Linked DNA regions of Homo sapiens: region 2 is linked to region 1. The links come from fine-mapping of genetic effects on gene expression. A gene starts in region 1. The other region holds a variant in brackets. All regions are shown on one strand. Distances are between the middles of the regions.

What was found. PIP is the estimated chance that this variant, and not a neighbour inherited with it, causes the effect.
Region 2: its variant is fine-mapped to the expression of KCTD21 in spinal cord (GTEx, PIP 0.93).

The regions. Positions count from the first base shown.
Region 1 is chr11:78,182,666-78,193,010 of GRCh38, reverse strand. KCTD21 (potassium channel tetramerization domain containing 21) reads left to right here and starts at 4,385. Exons shown (of 2, transcript NM_001029859.3): 1 at 4,385-4,438. It overlaps USP35 (ubiquitin specific peptidase 35), which reads right to left and starts at 4,092. Exons shown (of 11, transcript NM_020798.4): 1 at 3,854-4,092. RefSeq lists silencers at 3,739-3,898, 4,329-4,668.
Region 2 is chr11:78,107,551-78,117,895 of GRCh38, reverse strand. It overlaps ALG8 (ALG8 alpha-1,3-glucosyltransferase), which reads left to right. Exons shown (of 13, transcript NM_024079.5): 6 at 3,504-3,630; 7 at 3,907-4,010; 8 at 5,126-5,246; 9 at 8,315-8,454. Among named protein-coding and RNA genes, the nearest start is that of ALG8, 27 kb to the left of the region's middle. The variant C/T (reference allele first, on the strand shown) is at 5,385.

The DNA of each region.
Region 1 (10,345 bases):
GAAGAAACCCTAATCCATGAGGCACTGGCATCATGTGTGAAGCAAGAGGGCATGGGGGCAGGCAGAAATGGAGTTCTGGAGACAGGGAAGACTCTGGTAGTAGAAAGAGTACTAGAAAGAGTAGAAAGAGTATCAGACTAGGAATGAGGAGTCCTACATTCTAGCCCTGACTCATTGTGTGACCCTCAGTAAATCATACCCATGAGCCTCTTTTCTGTAAAATGGGGACAAATGCTATTAGACTGAACCGCATGAAACCGAATGATCAAATGTTGGCAATTTCATGTTGTTCTACCTAACACCACATAAGCCTGGCAGCTGACAGTTCAAATAGAGCTGCTCCATGAGAGCTCTGATCTCCAAGGCCAGCCGGCAGCCTCTGCTCAGTCCGTAGCCTGGCCACAGCAAGCAAGCCCTGCCCACCTGCCCCAACTCCCACGCAGGCAGTCTGAGGACAGCTGTCACCATGGTCACCAGCAAACCCACTCAATATCTTGCATGCACTCAGACAAAAGGGTTTTAGAGGCTTGCACCTCACCTGGCCCCATCAGGCCAGGGAAGGGAGGACAAGGCCAGCTATCCCACTGGCAGGAATGAAGAAAGTGAGGCTCAGAGAGAGGAACATGGCCTTGGCAAAGCAGGATTAGAACCTGCACTCTGCCTCCCTCAGGAGGGCTGGATTAGCCTGCTAAGCCCCGGGTGAGGAGATGGCCTGTCCATGCTGGCTCTGACTCAAGAGACAGCTGCCCCGCACCAACCGCAGCAGCAAACAGCAGCCATGTCCTCCCCGAGGAGAGCCTGTGTTAAAAGCTGAAGATACAGGTTTTCTGCTTCAAAGTCATGGTGACCTTGGGTGAGCCCCTGCCTGGCTTCTTAGCCTTCTCATCTGGAAAATGGGGACTATTCCAAGCCTACCATTCACAGGGTTGAGACAAGGTATAAAAAAGATGAGGTCCTCATTAACACGGTGAAACCCCATCTCTACTAAAAATACAAAAAATTAGCCGGGCGTGGTGGCGGGCACCTGTAGTCCCAGCTACTCAGGAGGCTGAGGCAGGAGAATGGCGTGAACCCAGGAGGCGGAGCTTGCAGTGAGCCGAGATCATGCCACTGCACTCCAGCCTGGGGGACAGAGCAAGACTCCGTCTCAAAAAAAAAAAAAAAAAAAAGATGAGGGCCGGGCTGTCATGAGTCTATTTTTGGGCCACCTGGCACTGATGGGAGACACAGATACTGTCAGGGAAAGGAGACAAGGAGACACGCACTGCTGATCCTGCTGATTCTCCAAGGCATTTCCTCCATTAGCCCTCCCTGCCACTTCGGTGTTCCCAGCCCCACCCAGGATCAGACCCCTTGACTTCTTGCCTGGACTAGTGCAGTAGCCTCCTAACCCATCTCCCAATTCCCTCCCTCAATCCATCCTCCAACAGAGGCATGTGTCCTAGAGGAGAACAGAGTCCAGGCTTCGAGTCTAGCCCAGCCACCATGGAGGTAGGTGTTCTTTTACCTCTGTGATCCTCGGAATGCCCAAATAGAAGGTGACTACGTGCCCACCCCTTAGCCTTTCCCAGCCAGCGCTGCTGCTCCTCCCAAGCCCTTGCCTCATACCCCTCGCCCTACTGGCATGACAGCCTGAGGGGCGTCCCAGCAACACCAGCACACTCCAAGGCACGCAGTGAGCACTCAGGAAAATCCCAATCCCTCTGCCAAAAGGCCCAGATCCTTTCACCTGTTCCTCTCGGATGACCCTCAACATTTCTGCCGAGTGTTGACTGATCTCTGCTCCTGCACAGTTGAGCCTGACTTATCTCCATCACCCCAAAGCACCCTGTGTGTGTGTGTGTATGTGTGTGTACACAACTCCTATGCTCAGCCCCACTGCCACGCCCTGGGCCCCCGCTCAAGCTTCATCATCCCTCCTTGGTCTCTCCAGATGCAGCATCGTCAGATGGAGCTTATTACACGGTAAGCACCATTCCGTCCATGCCCCTGCTCAGAACTCTCAACACTCTCCAGCCCCTTGGACCCAGAATAAGGTCCAAACTCCTGAGCCGGACATGCAAGCCCTTTCTGTGACACTCAGCTGATGTGGGGCAGGGGTGGAGATGAACTCAAGCAACATTGTTCAGTGGAGACTCTGCAGACATTGGAGCAGGGGGCTTTTTCCTGACTGCTACTTTGCACAATGTCCCCTCTACTGAAAAAGGGCTTTTCCCTCTTCTCTCCTGGAAAATTCTGACTCACCCTTCAATGCCCAGCTCACATGCCCTCTCCTCTGGGAAGCCTTTCCTTTTCCCTCCACAATTCAAGTGTCTAAAGTTCTGGCCTCCAAGGCCCTCTTAGCTATTCTCATCCCTCTGCAGCATAACTGGAATCCATGTCTCTGTCTCCCACCAGGCTGGGACCTCCCTTGGCAGAGGTCCAATCCCCGTCTCTGAGCCCAGTGCCCAGTACAGAACCAAGGACTGAGGTGTCCGTGAAGGTGCGTCAAGCAACTCATGAGAGACATGTGACAGCAAGATGAGAGAAAACCAAAGATGTAACCACAAAAGTACCTTCCAGAAACTGGCCTAACCTTTGGTCCAGTCACCACCCCCTCCTTTGCCCAGGCCTGGTCTTGCATATCAAAAACCCTGAAAATCTTAAACATCAGTCAAGAAAGCCCCTACAGAGGTCACTGGACTGGACTGAGGCTTTAGCCATTCTAGAAATTGTTCAAACAACCAAAGCAAAAGAAAAAGCACAAAACAAAAACAAAACAAAACAAAACAAAAATCTGTTCCTGGTTAGCCTTCAGGTCAAAAGCTCACAGAATCTCCTAGGACCTGAGAAGAAGGCTTCATGGTGTTACTCAACCTCTCCCTGCTCCAGGTCAGAGCAGCCCCTCCCAGCCTCTGCTCAGCACCTAAGAGCTGAGGAGCACATTTCCTCCCCTCTCTGACCCTCGAAGCCAGCCTCCCTCCTTTGACTCCCCTGGGAGCCAGAGCTTCCTTGGGGGTACCAGGCTGCCCCTCCCGACACCAGGTGGTGCCCTCCATCTCTGGCCCCTCAGGTGTCTGAATGGCAGCATCTCTCTAGGTATTTTTTAACTGAACTTCTACCCAAGGCAACCCTGGGAAGAAGTGCTTCACCCTACTCCGGGAGGCCCATGTCTGGGCCACCAAACTGTCTCCTGGAAAGAAAAAGAAAAAAGGGTTTCACTGGTAAAAAGCAGCTGCTCTTCCTCAAAGGATAAGGAGGAGAGAGAAGGGAAGAAAGCAGGAGCAGCTATTCCTCCTCAGGAACCCACCACACACACCTATCCCTGCGGGGCCACCCCTCACAAACCTGTGAGGGCCGCACTCCACCCCAAGCTTTCTGGAAGGAAGGGCACCAAGCTGACACATCAGGGTCTCCGGTTTGCAAGGGCCAGGGCCGTAAGAGGGGGTTGGGGAGGGTATCCCAGGGCCCAGCACACTGAGAATAGGAAAAGCCCATTCCAAGCAATGGTGGCCTCGGGCCCCCCAGTTTGTGCCACCTCCCTCCCTCCAGTGCACCCGCGCCCAGCCCACGCTTGAGCTGGAGGGCCCCACGAAAAGCCAGCAAGCGAATGTACTAGGTACTGGGTGCGAATGCCCTCTTACCTGAAAGGGGAGGGAGCAGGATCACTTCGACATACAATTGATGAAGGGAGGGGATTAATGCCCAGAGAGGAATAGCTACTCGCCCAAGGTCACACAGTGAGGCCCAGGAGGCCCAGGATGCACCCAGATCTCCCGACTCCCAGCCCTGGGCTCGCAAGTCCAGGGTTCTCGAAAGGCCAGGGTGCAGACACCGCCCCCCAAAGACAGTCACACGCCCCCAACCCCCTTACCTCCCGGACCCCGGTGGGCCAGAGCCGGCTGCTGGGCGGGGCGCTCAGGCCGGGCAGGACGAGGCTGGGCCCGGCTAGGTCAGGGCTGGTCCTCTGCTCCCCCCAGGGTGGGGACGCCCTCAGCCAGGTCCCAGACGGAAGAGATGCTGCTTCCACTGCAAAATCCAGTCTTCCCACCCCGCCTGGCACAAGCCTCTATGTATCCAGGAAGCCCGACTCTGCGGCGCGGCCCCGGGGCTGCGGGATGAAGCATGGGGAGGGGCGAGGTGCGTGAAATGGGGCGGAGCCGGAGCGGGGGCCACCCCGCGAGCTGCCACTCTGACCGCGTCCCCTTTAAGGCCAGCCGGCCGGACACCGGCGGGGACGAGGCGGGGCGCAGAGCAACTCGCTGCAATGCCTCCTGGGAGATGGAGTTCGCTCTCGACGCGCCGAGCTGCGAGGAGCCCAGAGAGAACTACCAGTCCCGGAAGGCAGCGCACAGACCCCGGACCGCCACGCCCCTGGGCTGGGCTCCTACCCTCCGCCCCCCTCGCAAAGCTGCGCTGGCCGCTCGCGGAGGGAGAGGCTGCAGAGCGAGGGCAGGAGGTGGGTGCGGCACGGCCGGGGTCGCGGGGCTCGGGGACTACCGGCGAGGGTACGTGGGCCCACTGAGCACCTGTCTTACCATGAGACTAATCTATCCCAGCCTCGCCATTCCCATCTGTGAAATGGGGATGGCATCGCCTGTGGTGCGGGGGAGGGGGCGCGTTTCGGAGCGAGGTGAGCCGAAGTGGGCAGAGCTCTTAGAGGGGCGGGGCTGTTGGGAGAGCAAGGGCGGATGGTGATAGTCGGAAAAGCCCGGATAATGAGGGTCGGGACTGTGGGAGGAGTCCTTGGTGGGTGGGGCAAGGAGAGGCGGGATCTCTAGGTGGGGGTGGGGCACTTGTCAGGTCGGAGTGGGGGCTGTAGGGCTGGGGAGTGGGTGCGGAACAAGCCGATGAGGCCAGCCTGGGTGAGATTGGGGAAGGAAGGGCGGAGACACAGATGACAGGGAACTTGCCCCGCTCTGGAGAGCCCTGGGCCGGCCGCGCTGTGGCGGCGTGGGCAAAAGCCTGTGATGCATAGAACACCTCCCTTTACTGACTGGAAATAAAGAGTCCATCCCCGAGTTCAGTGCGGCACACCAGTGATCTCATTGACCTCCCACGCCCTGAAAAGTAGAGGCGTCACTATAGCGGTTGACAGGTGAGGAATGTGAGGCTCAGAAAAGCGAAGGGACTTGCCTAAAACCACTCAGGACTCCTTACTTCAAAGACCTTGCTTTTCTCCCTGCACTCGGGGAGGCAGAGGTTTAGCTTGGCGTGGGAGGCAGGAAAGAAAAGTTTTGATGCCCCGACCTTCGCAAATTGTCTGGCAGGACCAGTCCCCCCAACCCTTCCGAATGACAGCCTGTAAGGCAGCCCTCCTATAGTACTGTGAGGATGAAATGAGATGGATTTGAAAGCACGGTGTTTATAAATTACTGTTTGGAGGAGACATAGGAAGAGAGCGGTTTGAAATGGGGTGCTGGTGCCGGAGGAAAAGCACAAGGTGAAGCGTGAGAGTGAGCCGAGAAGGTGAAGGAAAGTTCTGGAAGGGGCTGGGGGATGGTAGTGGTTGTTGGAGGTCTACGCCAGATGAAAGAATACCTTGCCGTGCCAGATTCCGTGGTCTCCTTCTTCCAGCCCACCTTTCTCTCCTCCTGCCTTTTGCGCAGCTCATTCTGGGGTCCCTGTGTCTAGGAAGCACCTTTTCTCTCCTCCCTATGGGTTGTGATGGTAATAGAGCAGCCTTCGGATTTCTTAGAGATATGGACTGGGCAAGACAGAATTATAGACGCAGCTCTTTGATGTGGGGTGGTCAGGAAGAGGAGGTGAAGAAAGGGTAGTCGTCCTAGGGGCTTCAAGGCAAAGAGTCCTTTCTCCGGTGGGGTAAGGTGGGGAAGTCTCCCACTTACTGGAAAACACAGTACTCACTCTGAGCATTGTCTTTTTTGAAATTTACCCAGCCACGTGCTGTCCATTCCCTTACGCAGTGGAAACTCTCCTTGCATTTACTCCCAAGTAATCACCTCGGCCTTGTCACATCCCTTTAGATTCCAGATTGAAAATTGAACAGAGCATTTCAAAATTAAAAAGTTTTGAAAATCCAGGTGGGGAAAATGGATCTGACTAAACAGGAGAGAAATTTCTTCCTCTTCCCCTATTCTACGTGCTTCTGTGGATATAGAAAGGGGCACCCCCAGCCCCAGCAAGGGAGCCAGGCATCCATCTACTTAAGTAAAGTTGGCTGTGGTAAGGGGTTAGACTAAAATTCTCCGCAGATGCAGAGGAGAAGGAATGAATTCCAGCTGAGAGACCTGGCCGATGCATGGGATTTGTCTTCAAGGTCCAGGCAGAGGGGATGGCAGATGCCAAATTGCAGAAGTCGAAGAGGGCCCAGTATGGTTGGTCTGTAAAGTAGGTATATAATAGTATCTACTTAATCTGTGAGATTGAAAGAGATTAACATGTATAGAGTGCCTAGCACGGTAGTAACTGCTCAATAAACGTTAGCCATTATTATTGCCGTTGTAGTGTTTGTTGTTGTTATGATCATCATCATCTGCCCAGGAACGTGCCCAGGGCTGCACAGCTAGTAAGTGGCAGGGGATGATTCAAATGCAAACCCAGGTAATGCCGAATACCATGCATGGTCTGCCCCTACCCCACACAGCCTCTCCAGTTCTTTTCTTTTTTTTTTTTTTTTTTTTTTTTTTTTTTTTTTTTGAGACAGGGTCTTACTCTGTTGCCCAAGCTGGAGTGCAGTGGCGTGATCTCGGCTTGCTGCAGCCTGACCTCCCAGGCTCAAGCGATCCTCCTACCTCAGCCTGTGCAGCTGGGACTGCAAGCACGTGTTACCATGCCCAGCTAATTTTTTTTTTTCTCTATAGAAACGAGGTCTCATTATGTTGTCCAGGTGGTCTCAAACTCCTGAACTCAAGCGATCCTCCCACCTGGGCCTTCCAAGTGCTGGGATTACAGGCATGAGCCACTGAGCCTGGCCTGTCTCCAGTTCTTTCTGCCCATCCTTGACATTTCTGAGGCCCAGGAGTGGCCTCTCTTTGTCAACATTCACAGTGAGTCATGACAGGAGTTTCTTTCCTGCCGAGTTACAGAGATTCTGGGTTCATGATGAGGCAGGAAAAACAAGGCCTGAACAGCCATCTTCTTCCAGGCAGAATCACAGCACAGAAGATAGGCAGACCTGGCCGGGCGCGGTGGCTCACGCCTGTAATCCCAGCACTTTGGGAGGCTGAGGTGGGTGGATCATTTGAGGTCAGGAGCTTGAGACCAGCCTGGCCAACGTGGTGAAACCCCGTCTCTACTAAAAATACAAAAATTAGCCGGGCATGGTGGCACGCACCTGAAATCCCAGCTACTCAGGAGGCTGAGGCAGGAGAATCACTTGAACCTGGGAGGCAGAGGTCGCAGTGAGCCAGGATCACGCCACTGCACTCCAAACTGGGTGACAGAGCGAGACTCTATCTCAAAAAAAAAAAATAGGCCTAGTGGTGTGGTTTCTGTGGGTGGTGGCTCTATCCAGACTGCCCACCCAGGCTTAGATTCTAACTCCTCCACCACTTAGCCCTGGTTGGCATCCTCACCCTTCAAAATTCAGAAACACTTGGGAAGGAAAATTATGAGCTTTTCACACTTCTAAGTAGTAGTAGTAAATCTGTAACTTACTAAATCTGGCGACTTATTGGGGTCTGGCACAATGACTGTAACTTTACATCTATTGGCCCTATGAAGAAGTGTTCTTCCCCCCTCTTTTAAAATACAAATATTTTTAAAATTTTCAAGCTTACATAAAAGCTTAAAGTACAACCCTTAACCTAGATACGCCAAATCACAATTTGCCAATTGTGCTTTTACACAAACACACACTTTTTTGGCCCAATTATTTAAAAGTAAGTTACAGATATGTTGATTGACGTTTGACCCCTAAATTCTTCAACATGTATCCCCTAATAAGGGCGTTCTACTACATAGCCATAATACATTATATGTAATAAGCAAGAAGTCAGTATTACCCAATGTAATAGTTATTCAAAATTTTCTGCCAGGTGCAATGGGTCATGTCTATAACCCCAGCACTTTGGGAAGCAAAGGCAGACAGATTGCTTGAGCCCAGGAGTTCAAGGCCAGCCTGGGCAACATAGTGAAACCCCATCTCTACAAAAACTACAAAATTTAGCATGGTGTGGTAGCGTGCACCTGTAGTCCCAGCTACTTGGGAAAATCACCTGAGCCTGGGGATGTCAAGGCTGCAGTGAACCATGATCGCGCCACTGCACTCCAGCCTGGGCGACAGAGTGAGACCCTGTCTCAAGAAAAAAAAAATTCTAATTGCCCAAAAATACCTTATATAGTTTCTGGTTTTTAAAATCAGATCCAGTCAAGATGTACATATTGCATCCTATTATATCTCTTTTATCAACTCATTTAATCTAAATAGAGCCCCTTGGCATGGTAGCTCATGTCTGTAATCCCAACATTTTGGGAGGCTGAGGTGGGCAGATCACTTGAGGTCAGGAGTTCGAGACCAGCCTGGCCAACATGGTGATACCCCATCTCAAGTAAAAATACAAAAATTAGCCGGACATGGTGGTGTGTGCCTATACTCCCAGCTACTCAGGAGGCTGAGGCAAGAGAATTGCTTGAACTCAGGAGGTGGAGGTTGCAGTGAGCCGAGATTGTGCCACTGCACTCCAGCCTGGGCAACAGAGTGTGACTCTATCTCAAATAAATAAATAAATAAATAAATAGAGCTTCTCCACCTATTTAAATATGTTTGATTGGTTTATCAATGATTAGATTGGGGTTAGATTTAAGTTTTTGGCAATGTGTGTACTTACTGCATGTCAGGAGGATATGATGTCAGGGTCTTACTATCCATGAATGCTAAATTTGATTATTAAGGTCATGGCAACCTGATCTCTCTATCGTAAAGGTAAATTTTTCTCTCTTACAATTAATAAGTAATCTGTGAAGTGATTCTCTGAGTCTGTTATAATTATGTGTTCCTGATAACCTTTCACACCACATCCTTGGATGATCCTTGCTTGAATTACAACACTGAGGGTTGCAAATTGGTAATTTTCTAATTCTGCCATTCCTTCTGTGTTTATTAGTGTTCTTTTTTATAGAATTAATTTTTCCTGGCCGGGTGCGGTGGCTCACGCCTGTAATCCCAGCACTTTGGGAGGCCGAGGCGGGCGGATCACGAGGTCAGGAGATCGAGACCATCCTGGCTAACAAGGTGAAACCCTGTCTCCACTAAAAATACAAAAAATTAGCCGAGCGAGGTGGCGGGCGCCTGTAGTCTCAGCTACTCGGGAGGCTGAGGCAGGAGAATGGCGTGAACCCTGGGAGGCGGAGGTTGCAGTGAGCCGAAATCACACCACTGCACTCCAGCCTGGGCGACAGTGAGACTCCGTCTCAAAAAAAAAAAAAAAGAATTAATTTTTCCTGTCTCTATCTTTCTCACTCCCTTCTTCTCACCCTCTTTTTTCTTTTGGGAATAACATTATGGACTCTTGTTTTTTGTTTGTTTGTTTTTGAGATGGAGTCTCACTCTGTTGCCCTGGCTGGTGTGCAGTGGCACGATCTTGGCTCACTGCAACCTCCACTTCCCAGATTCAAGCGATTCTCCTGCCTCAGCCTCCCAAGTAGCTGGAATAACAGGCGCACGCCACCCCGCCCAGCTATTTTTTGTATTTTTAGTAGAGATGGGGTTTTGCCATGTTAGCCAGGCTGGTCTTGAACTCCAGACCTCAGGTGATCCGCCCGCCTCGGCCTCCCAAAGTGCTGAGATTACAGGCATGAACTACCGCACCCAGCCTGGACTCTTGTTTTGTTGTTGTTGTTTTTTAATTCACTGGGCTATATGAACTCACCTTGAACTTTTCCTGTGAAAGTCCAGGAATCATCAGTTTCTCCAGGAAGCCCTGGTTTCTTTTAGAAGAGATGATGACATTCAGAAACAAAGATCCAGGGCTAGGTGTGTTTATTGCTACTGGGTGTCATTTCTAGGCTCTGTGAGTGAGCAGAGCTAGGAAATGATGGATAGGTGATTGATAGATAGATGATAGATGGACAATTTTCATTACTCAGTACATTTATTGTTACAACAGCTAGTCCCCACTGACAGGATTGCATGGTAAGTCATTTCATTATGGAAGTAATGCTCATTATGGAAGTGGACAGTAATGTAGGAAAAAAGGAAATTGCACAGAAAAGAGCTCTTGCCTACTCCAGGTCGCCATGAGTATACAGACTGTTGGCTAGGACCTCTGTGGCTGGGTTCAGCTTCCTGCCGAAGACGTCTAAAGGACTGGTTCTCTGAAGGGTGTCCAAACCAGAACTTCCCAGAGGCCATGACTCTGAGGTCAAGAATCCACATGAAGCCCTGGGCAAGGGATTCACGCTC
Region 2 (10,345 bases), 75 kb after region 1:
GTTTCACCATTTACAGTATGGTCTTGATCTCCTGACCTCGTGATCTGCCCACCTCGGCCTCCCAAAGTGCTGGGATTACAGACGTGAGCCACCGCTCCCGGTCTTTTTTTTTTCTTAAGAGTTGGAGTCTTGCTCTGTCACCCAGGCTGGAGTGCACTGGCGCAATCATGGCTCACTGCCTCCTCAAACTCCTGGGCTCAAGCAATTCTCTCACCTCAGCCTCCTGAGTCGCTAGAATTACAGGTGCACACCACCATACCTGGCTAATTTTTTTTTTTTTTTTTGGTAGAGAAGGAGGTTTCACTATGTTGTCCAGGCTGGTCTTAAACTCCTGACCACAAGTGATCCTCCCACTCTGGCCTCCCAAAGTGCTAGGATTAGAGACAGGTCTTGAACTCCTGGCCTTGAACAATCCTCCTACCTCTGCTTCTGAGTCTCTGGGATTACAGATGTGTGCCACCACACCTGGCTTACATATATCTTATTGAGTAAACTTCAGAACCATTCTGTGAAGTTGTTAGAATTATTATTCCTCCTATAGAGGAGGAAATCAGAAATTCAGATTTTGGGGCCATCCCTTTGTACATGGAATCGAAGTCTCTGGGAATGGGGCTTAAGACTCTCTAAGGAATTTTGATACACCATCAGGCTTGAGAACCATTAACTGAAGGCAAGTTATTTAACCCTCCTAGCCTCATTTTCCCCATAAAATGAAATTTACCGCTACATTCTTAGTTGTAAAATGGGGCTACTTACCTCACAGGGACATTGGAAAGATCAAATTTGATAATCTAAAGTTCTTTGTCAACTATAAATGTCTGGATAAACTTTTCTCTTTTAACCATAAAAAGCTTCATAGTAATTAGAATATAACTGGTGTTCAATGAATATTTGTTGGATGCTTATTGAACAAATAAAATTTGACTATGGAATCAGCTAGACCTTACCCAGATCTTAAATAAGTTATAAAATTGAAGAGAGACCTAGAAGCATTCCCACTCTTTTTTGTTATTACTCCTAAAGCTACCAATTCTAGACCGCACCTGATGAGAGAAGGAAACTGGCCTTTCATGGTCCCTGTGGCAGTTTCCCCTGCAGAACATCAGGACTGTTATCTCATTTAATCCTTCCGAAATTCCTGTGAGGTGGATAGATTTCAGACTTTCTTTTTTTTTGAAGACAACGTCATGCTGTGTCACCCAGGCTGGAGAATGCAGTGGTGGAGTCACAGCACACTGTAACCTCAACCTCCTGGGCTCAAACAGTCCTCCTGCCTCAGCCTCCAGTTAGCTGGGACCACAGGTGCACACCACCACTCCCGGCTAATTTTTTGTATTTTTACTAGAGACGGGGTTTCGCCATGTTAGCCAAGATGGTCTGGATCTCCTGACTTCGTGATCCACCCACTTCAGCCTCTCAAAGTGCTGGGATTACAGGTGTCAGCCACCCCACCCAGCCAAATTCTTACTATAACTTCTTAGTTATAGTAAGCTGGTTTTGTTTTGTTTGTTTGTTTGTTTGTTTTGGAGATAGCATCTTGCATTGTCACCCAGGCTGGAGTGCAGTGGCGCGATCTCAGCTCACTGCAACCTCCACCTCACTGCAACCTCCACCTCACGTGATTCTCGTGTCTCAGCCTCCCAAGTAGCTGGGATTACAGGCACCCACCACCATGCCTGGCTAATTTTTTGTATTTTTAGTAGAGACAGGGTTTCACTATGTTGGCCAGGCTGGTCTCAAACTCCTGACCTCAAGTGATCCACCCGCCTCGGTCTCCCAAAGTGCTGGGATTATAGGCATGAGCCACCACGCCTGGCCTTTGTTTGTTCTTTTTACATCAGAATACCTTTAGTTTTCCTAAGTAGTGTTTGTATCAAGTGCAGTGACTGGTGCCTTCAGCCTGATAGTGCTATATAAGTTACCTAATCTACAATATAAAATTCAATTGATTTTTTTGGTAGCATAGCATCCTATATATTTGTTCATGTTCTCATTCCCAGCCCTTCTTTGGAAATCAACTCCAGCTATTCTGAAACTGTGAGGGGTGAAGGTAATTTAATTCTCTGGGCTCTAATTCCTAAAGGAGAGTTTGCAGTATGTTATTACTGATGACATGTAGGATATGATCTCAGCATAAGGCTTAGTATGTGATAAATCTTTGTTGGAATAGTGAATTTATGAACACATTAGACTCAGTATAAAAGCTAGCTGGGCTGGTCGCAGTGGCTCATGCCTGTAATCCCAGCACTTTGGGAGGCTGAGACAGGTGGATCAGTTGAGGCCAGGAGTTTGAGACCAGCCTGGCCAACATGGTGAAACCCCATCTCTACTAAAAATACAAAAAAATTAGCCAGGCGTGGTGGTGGGCACTTGTAATCCCAGCTACTTGGGAGGCTGAGGCAGGAGAATTACTTGAACCCGGAAAGTGGAGGTTGCAGTAAACGAGACCGTGCCATTGCACTCCAGCCTGGGCAACAAGAACAAAACTCCGTCTCAAAAAAAAAGCTAGCTGGAATCACTTGCCTATGTTTTCCTTATACTGGTTATAGAATATTTACCTTGGGCCAAGCATGGCGGTTCACGCCTGTAATCCCAGCACTTTGGGAGGCCGAGGCAGGTGGATCACCTGAGGTCAGGAGTTTGAGACCAGCCTGGCCAACATGGTGAAACCCTGTCTCTACTAAAAAATACAAAAATTAGCCGGGTGTGTTGGCACACGCCTGTAGTCCCAGCTACTCGGGAGGCTGAGACAGGAGAATTGCTTGAACCGAGGAGGCGGAGGCTGCAGTGAGTCAGGATTGTGCCACTGCACTTCAGCCTGGGTAAGACAGAGGGAGACTCCATCTCAAATAAAATAAAATAAAATAAAAATTTAAAAAAGTAGGTATTGTTTATTTTTGTTATTTATTTATTCATTTTGGAGACAGGGTCTCACTCTGTCACCCAAGTTGGAGTGCAGTGTCGTCATCATGGCTCATTGCAGCCTCCACCTCCTGGGCTAAAGCAGATTCTCTCACCTCAGCCTCCAGAGTAGCTGGTGCTACAGGTGCAAGCCATCACGCCTAGCTAATTTTTTTTATTTTTTATTTTTTTGTAGAGACAGGGCCTCCCTATTTTGTCCAGGCTGGTCTTGAACTCCTGGGGTCAAGCAATCCTTCCACGTCGGCTTACCAAAGTGCTGGGATTGCAGGTGTGAGTCACCACACTTAGCCTAATTTTAGTTTTTTAAATAACCTTTTTGTAGGATAATTTTAGCTTTCCAGAAAAGTTGTAGAAATAGTACAGAGAGTTCCTATATATCCCTCACCCATTTTCCCCCATTACCACCTTACATAACCATGGTACATTCATCAAGACTAAGAAAGCAATATTGATGCATTTGAATTTCACCCGTTTTTCCTTTAATGTCCTTGTTCTGTTCCAGGATTCAATCTAGAATACCACATTATTGCATTTCATTTACCCTGAATTTTAAAGTGATATTTCCCTTTTAAATCTCCTAGAAAAGGCATATGGAAGGAGCATTTCTCTTTGCTGTTCTCCTACATTTCAAGCATATCTACCTCTATGTAGCACCAGCTTATGGTGTATATCTGCTGCGATCCTACTGTTTCACTGCAAATAAACCAGGCAAGTTTTGGTAATAATAGCAAAAACATTTTCGATTTTTCCCTTACTGTGTTGACTTGGTGGCTTGCTTGATAAGAAGGTTTTATGAAGCACAGCAGATATCTCAGCTGCTAATCCTGTAAGCCCTTTACCCATTCTCGCTTTTCTCTGCTCTTGCCACATCATGAATAGATTGGTATACTATTGTGGGATACTTCTAGTTTTAGCACATGATATAGGTTATGGTTAATGTTCCTTTCCATCTTCCTGGTTACTGATAATGTTCCTTTTCTGTAGATGGGTCTATTCGATGGAAGAGTTTCAGCTTTGTTCGTGTTATTTCCCTGGGACTGGTTGTTTTCTTAGTTTCTGCTCTTTCATTGGGTCCTTTCCTGGCCTTGGTAAGCCTTTTTTTTTTTTTTTTTCAATTAATACATGTTCTTTGTTGGTGTTTAGAAAACCTAATAAAGCCAGGAATATGTAAAATAAGTAAAAGCTACTTTTTTCTTACTCCTTACCCAACGTGACTCCCCAAAGATAGGGCAGTATTCCTTTTTTTTTTTTGTTTTTGTTTAAGATGGAGTCTCACTGTGTCGCCCAGGCTGGAATGCAGTGGCGTGATCTCGGCTCACTGCAACCTCCACCTCCTGGATTCAAGCGATTCTCCTGTCTCAGCCTCCTGAGTAGGTGGGATTACAGGCACATGCCACCATGCCTGGCTAATTTTTGTATTTTTAGTAGAGACAGGGTTTCAACATGTTGGTCAGGCTGGACTCGAACTTCTGACCTCAGGTGATCCACCTGCCTCAGCCTCCCAACGTGCTGGGATTAAAGGCATGAGCCACCGCTCTTGGCCCGATAAGGTAGTATTCTTTCAGACATTTTTGTGCACATTCAAATATGTATATATATATACATGTATATGTTTAACTGTACATTACACATACACAAACACAGAATTGATCTTCATTATTTGTGTATTCTGTACTTGTAAGTTTACTTACTTGATAAAATGTATTTGTAACAAAATCAATAATTTTGCAGTCTTACATGGACAGCAGACATTCTAAAGTGCATAGAATTTAACAGATGTTCAGATGTTTTCTTTCTTCCTCTTCTTCCCTGCCCTGAAATCAACTAATTAATTTTAATTCTTACTAAAACTGAAACGCGTCACATCTTTTGTAGTTTCCCAGCTCTCCCCTTCACCCTAGTAGACATGGATAAGCTGCAGTCTGTGTTCTGCTTTGTAGCTTGTAAATTCTTCTGTTATTATAATAGTATGGACGGGTATTCAGAGTATTTTTATGTATATTGTCCCACTGGACAGTGGACAAAGTGAGACCAAAAGAAGGTTCTGTGAACTTACATTGTGGTGAGCATATAACCACTTACTTACTAGAACCCAGACCCCATAACTTTCTACACACTATACCATAGAGAGTTCCCTAGTTCTCTTTTTGAATTTGAAAAAGATTGATGACTGTTTAATCAGTTTCATTTCTCTTTTCAACAGAATCAGCTGCCTCAAGTCTTTTCCCGACTCTTTCCTTTCAAGAGGGGCCTCTGTCATGCATATTGGGCTCCAAACTTCTGGGCTTTGTACAATGCTTTGGACAAAGTGCTGTCTGTCATCGGTATGGTAGCGAGCATTTTTTACTCAGACTCTGAATATTGAAAGGACTTAGGCACATGGAGAAATGGAAAAACCTTTGTGTTTTGAATGTGGCTGAATTGTTTGTTCTCCAGTCCTGCATTTCAGCTTTCAGGATGAA[C/T]AGGGGGAGCAGTTCTTGGGACTGAGGCTTTAGTGCAGTAAACAGACTGTTTTCCTTATAAAAGCTCCTTGTGGTAATGAGGTTATTGATCCTTTCCTGGGGAAAAAATAAAATATGTAGACACTCTATAAAGGTAATTTTTGCCTTAATTAAAAAACTATTCAGCAGCAGCAGTTAACCCTGCTTTTTTTCCCCCCTTCTCACCATTCCTATTCAAACCCCTACTTATTTTTAGAGACAGGGTCTCACTGTCACCCAGGATGGAGTGCAATGGTGTTGAGATCATAGTGCACTGCAGCCTTAAATTCCTGGGCTCAAACAGTCCTCTTGTCTCAGCCTCCTGAGTTGCTGGGACCACAGGTGCATACCACCACACCTGGCTGATTTTTAAATTTTTGTTTTTTAGAGATGAGGGTCTCACTATGTTGCCCAGAGTGGGATCAAACTTCTGGTCTCAAATGATCCTCCCACCTTGGCTTCCCAAAGTGCTGGGATTACCAGCACAAGCCACCATGCCTGGCCTACCCCACTTTTAAACCTAAACATACAAGAAAGAAGAATATGTAAGTTGTGACTCTCGGTATTAAACCAGTAAGGAAAATAACCCTGCATTTTAACATGAGGTGAGAAGAAATGAAAAACCCAGGCTATGGTTTTTAAAATTGGGTCGTAATGAAAAATAAGTTATGGTTTGAGATGGTTCTACTAAAAATAACTCACTCTGGATAACACAGTCTCTCATTTGTGAATACAATCTAGCTTGGTGGGAAAATGGCATGATCAAGAGTGGTGGTCAGCAAACTTTTTCTGTAACTGGCCAGATAATATTTTAAGCTATGCAGGCCACACACAGTGTGTGTGTGTGTATGTGTGTCTGTGTCTGTATTTGTGTATGCACACATTTGTTTAAAACCTTATAAAAGTAAAAACCATTCATACTTCAGTGCTGTGCAAAAACTGGGCACAGGCTACATTTGGCTGTTGGCCTATAGTTTGTGGACTCCAGACCTAGAGTCTGATGACTTGGTTTGGAGGCTCACCTGTGTAAATTGCTATTGCAGTGTGTGGCATTGACAAGTCATTTGCTTCCTTTCGTCTAACTTTCCTCACTATACGAAAGACATACTAGTACTTTACCTGTACCTATACAGTGTGTTGTGAGGAACAGAAGCAAAATTTAAAAAGTACTAGGTTATCAGTAGCAGAGACTTTGGAGCCAGACAAACCTGAGTTCAGTTTTACCACCTATTAGTTGTGTGACTTTGGGCAGGTTACTCCATCTCTGTACCTCAGGGGGCTAAAAGTAGTAAGTGCAGAGCCCTGGGCACATGGTAGACGCTCCATGCATGGTGGCCACTATTACTGTTTTTGATAAGTACTTGGAGGAGATCATACACTGCCTATGTGATGACTTATACATTGTGTCACCGTGTTGCTCACTGTGAATCTAGCCTTGATGTACATGGCATTCTTACAGAGTAATTCCTAACATTCATATTTCAAAAAAAGCTTTAAACAGCCAGCATAGTATGAGGTACAAGGGCCAGTTGCCTTGTCTGAGTCAGGAAGCTGTACTGTACCCTCACTTGTATGTTTGTGTCTTTGAAGATGTTTTACATGGAAAGTCAGTGTCAGAGTTAGACAACTTTGTTTTAGGGAGATAGTTATTAGCTGTAAGAGAGAATCAGCAGGCCAAAGGGGAAAGGGGAAGAGGTTAGTAAGTAGAAAATATTTTGGTACATCTTTCCCACATTGTATTCATTTTCACTGGCATTTGACAGGCCCTATAGGTGCTCAAACTGTCTCTGACTGTCCTATTAGCCAGAGCTTGTTGGGGCTTGTATTGTCATTCTCTGAATTGATTTATTTAATAACCAAGTATTTATTGAGCTCCTATGTACTGGGGATAGAAATGAACTCATCATCATTCCTGCCTTCAAGGAATACAGTATAGTAGAGGAAATGAGCACATAAACAAGTGCAGTGCCTTGTGGTGAACACTGTTAGAGTGAGCTCACTCAGCTGTGCACGTTGGCTCAGGCCTGTAATCCTAGCACTTTGGGAGGCTGAGATGGGCGGATCACCTGAAGTCAGGAGCTCGAGACCAGCCTGGCCAACATGGTGACACCCCGTCTCTACTAAAAATACAAAAATTAGCCGGGCATGGTGGCACATGCCTGTAATCCCAGTTAATGGGGAGGCTGAGGCAGGAGAATCGCTGGAACCTGGAACCTGGGAGGCAGAGGCTGCAGTGAGCTGAGATTGCGCCACTGCATTCCAGCCTCTGTCTCTGGGTGACAGAGTAAGACTCCATCTCAAAAAAAAAAAGTGAGCTCACAAGAAAATCAGTTCTGCTTATTGATTTAGGAGCTTTCTCAGGTGATTGAATTAGAAGTTAATTTGGCAAAGGGAGTTGCCTGGGCAGAGGGACACAGGTGTTGAGAGTGGTATATTGAGGACTCACAGTTACTTCATTGTGGCCAAGCCGCATTTAACAAAGTAAAGATGAGATTGAACAGGGGGGAAGGGGCGATGAGATCATGGAAGACACTGGATACTATGTTTAGGAATAGAGGGTTTCTCCCATAGGAGATGAAGGATTCAAAGTTCCTTCATGACATGCTCAGACTGTTCTAGAAGCTTGCTTTCAGAGGTGAGAGCAGATTACCATTTGTGCTGCCTGCCAGCAAGTTTCCTATAAGCTGCACAAATTCCCTGTTCCAATGCAAAGAGCTGCTTTATATATTATAATCTTAAGACCAGAGGCATTTTGGGTAGAATAGTATAGGATTAAATTCATGAAATCTTAGCCTTTAAGCAGCAATAAGATTTAGTAGCTTACTTTTTATTCCTCAAGGAATTGATTGTTAATATATGGTATCTCAGTAATAAAGATAAAAATAAAACAAAACAAAATATCTGTTTAATAGGTTTGAAATTGAAATTTCTTGATCCCAACAATATTCCCAAGGCCTCAATGACAAGTGGTTTGGTTCAGCAGTTCCAACACACAGTCCTTCCCTCAGTGACTCCCTTGGCAACCCTCATCTGCACACTGATTGCCATATTGGTAAGAACTCAACAGATGGTGCTCATTTCTTGAGTTTTCTCTGCTTTTCTTTTGTCTGGCTGATTAAATTTCAACTTTCAAGCTCTTCCAACTGTAGGATAAATTTCATGCCTGTAATCCTTCTGCAGATTGAAGCATTTCCTAGCAATTCTTAGAGTAACTTTGAATACCATAAGGAAGGATTACCAGTAAAGCCTTTGTGAGAGATTCTTGCCAGTGGCTGTTAGACCATCTGTTCACCCGGGGGAAGGGAAAAAGAAAAGCCCAGAGAGGAAGAGGCATGGATCATGCTGCAGAGAAAGAAGGAAATGTTTGTGGCAGGGACATCCAGATTTGGTTTGTTTTTCTCACCGTTAGCTAAATCATCAAAATTCCAAATGTATCTGGACAGCGTGGATGTTTTGTCTTGATGGTGATAATGAGTTGAGAGAGTCGACAAAGGCTTTTTGAGCCTAAGATGAGCCTAATATGAGTAAGATGCTCTTAGAGGCCTCATTCTAAGTACTTTAGAAACTTTAATTTCTAAAATTTCATTAGTGATTGCAGTGACCTCAATTTCATGGTATAATTTTAGTAGAATTCAATATAAACAACTCAATCCTATCGATAATTACACTCATCTTTAATTTTGGTTTCTGAATGTTTCAAACCTGCTAGCAACCACCTGATTCCACTTAATTACATGACAGTACAGGTATGTAGATAATTAAGCTCTGTTGGGCTGTTTGTTCACATATTTTAATTGAGGTAAAACATTTTTCCTAAAATTTCAGCCTTATGAGGTACATATAGTTTCTATGGCCTTCCAGCCAATAAAACTAAGTATTTATTAATATGGTAAATCTAATTTATTGGCTCAAAAGCATCTATGGACTTCTGTAGTTTGACCTATTAGGTTCATTAATAAATGAACTATTAGTAAACTAATTATGAAGATGTAATAAGTTGTTAGACTGTACATCCCAGAACTTAATTATTAATTTTGATAGTATAATTAATTTCTTTTTTTTTTGAGACAGAGTCTCACTCCGTCATCCAGGCTGGAGTGCAGTGGCGATTCTCCTGCCTCAGCCTCCCAAGTAGCTGGGATTACAGGCGCCTGCCACTGCACCCAGCTAATTGTTTTGCAGTAGTTTTGTTTTTGTTTTTGTTTTTGTTTTTTGAGACGGGAGTCTTGTTCTGTTGCCAGGCTGGAGTGTAGTGGTACGATCTCAGCTCACTGCAACCCCCACCTCCTGGGTTCAAGCGATTCCCCTGCTTCAGCCTCCTGAGTAGCTGGAACTACAGGCATGCACCACCACGCCCGGCTAATTTTTTTTGTATTTTAGTAGAGACAGGGTTTCACCATGTTGTCCAGGATGGTCTCGATCTCCTGACCTCGTGATCCGCCCACCTCGGCCTCCCAAAGTGCTGGGATTATAGGCCTGAGCCACCACACCCGGCCTTTTTTGTAGTTTTTAGTAGAGACAGGGTTTCACCATCTTGGCCAGGCTGGTCTTGAACTCCTGACCTCGTAATCGACTTGCATCAGCCTCCCAAAGTTCTGGGATTACAGGCGTGAGTCACTAGGCCCGGCCAATTTTTTTTTTTTTTTTTTTTTTTGAGACAGTCTCGGTCTGTCACCTAGGCTGGAGTGCAGTGGCGCAATTTCAGCTCACTGCAACCTCTGCCTCCCAGGTTCAAGCGATTCTCCTGCCTCAGCCTCCAGAGTACCTGGGAATACAGGTATGTACCACCACGCCCAGCTAGTTTTTTTTGTATTTTTAGTAGAGATGGGGTTTCACTATGTTGGTCAGGCTGTTCTTGAACTCCTAACCTCAAGTGATCTGCCTGCCTTGGCCTCCCAAAGTGCTGGGATTATAGGCATGAGCCACCATGCCCAGCCAGTAGA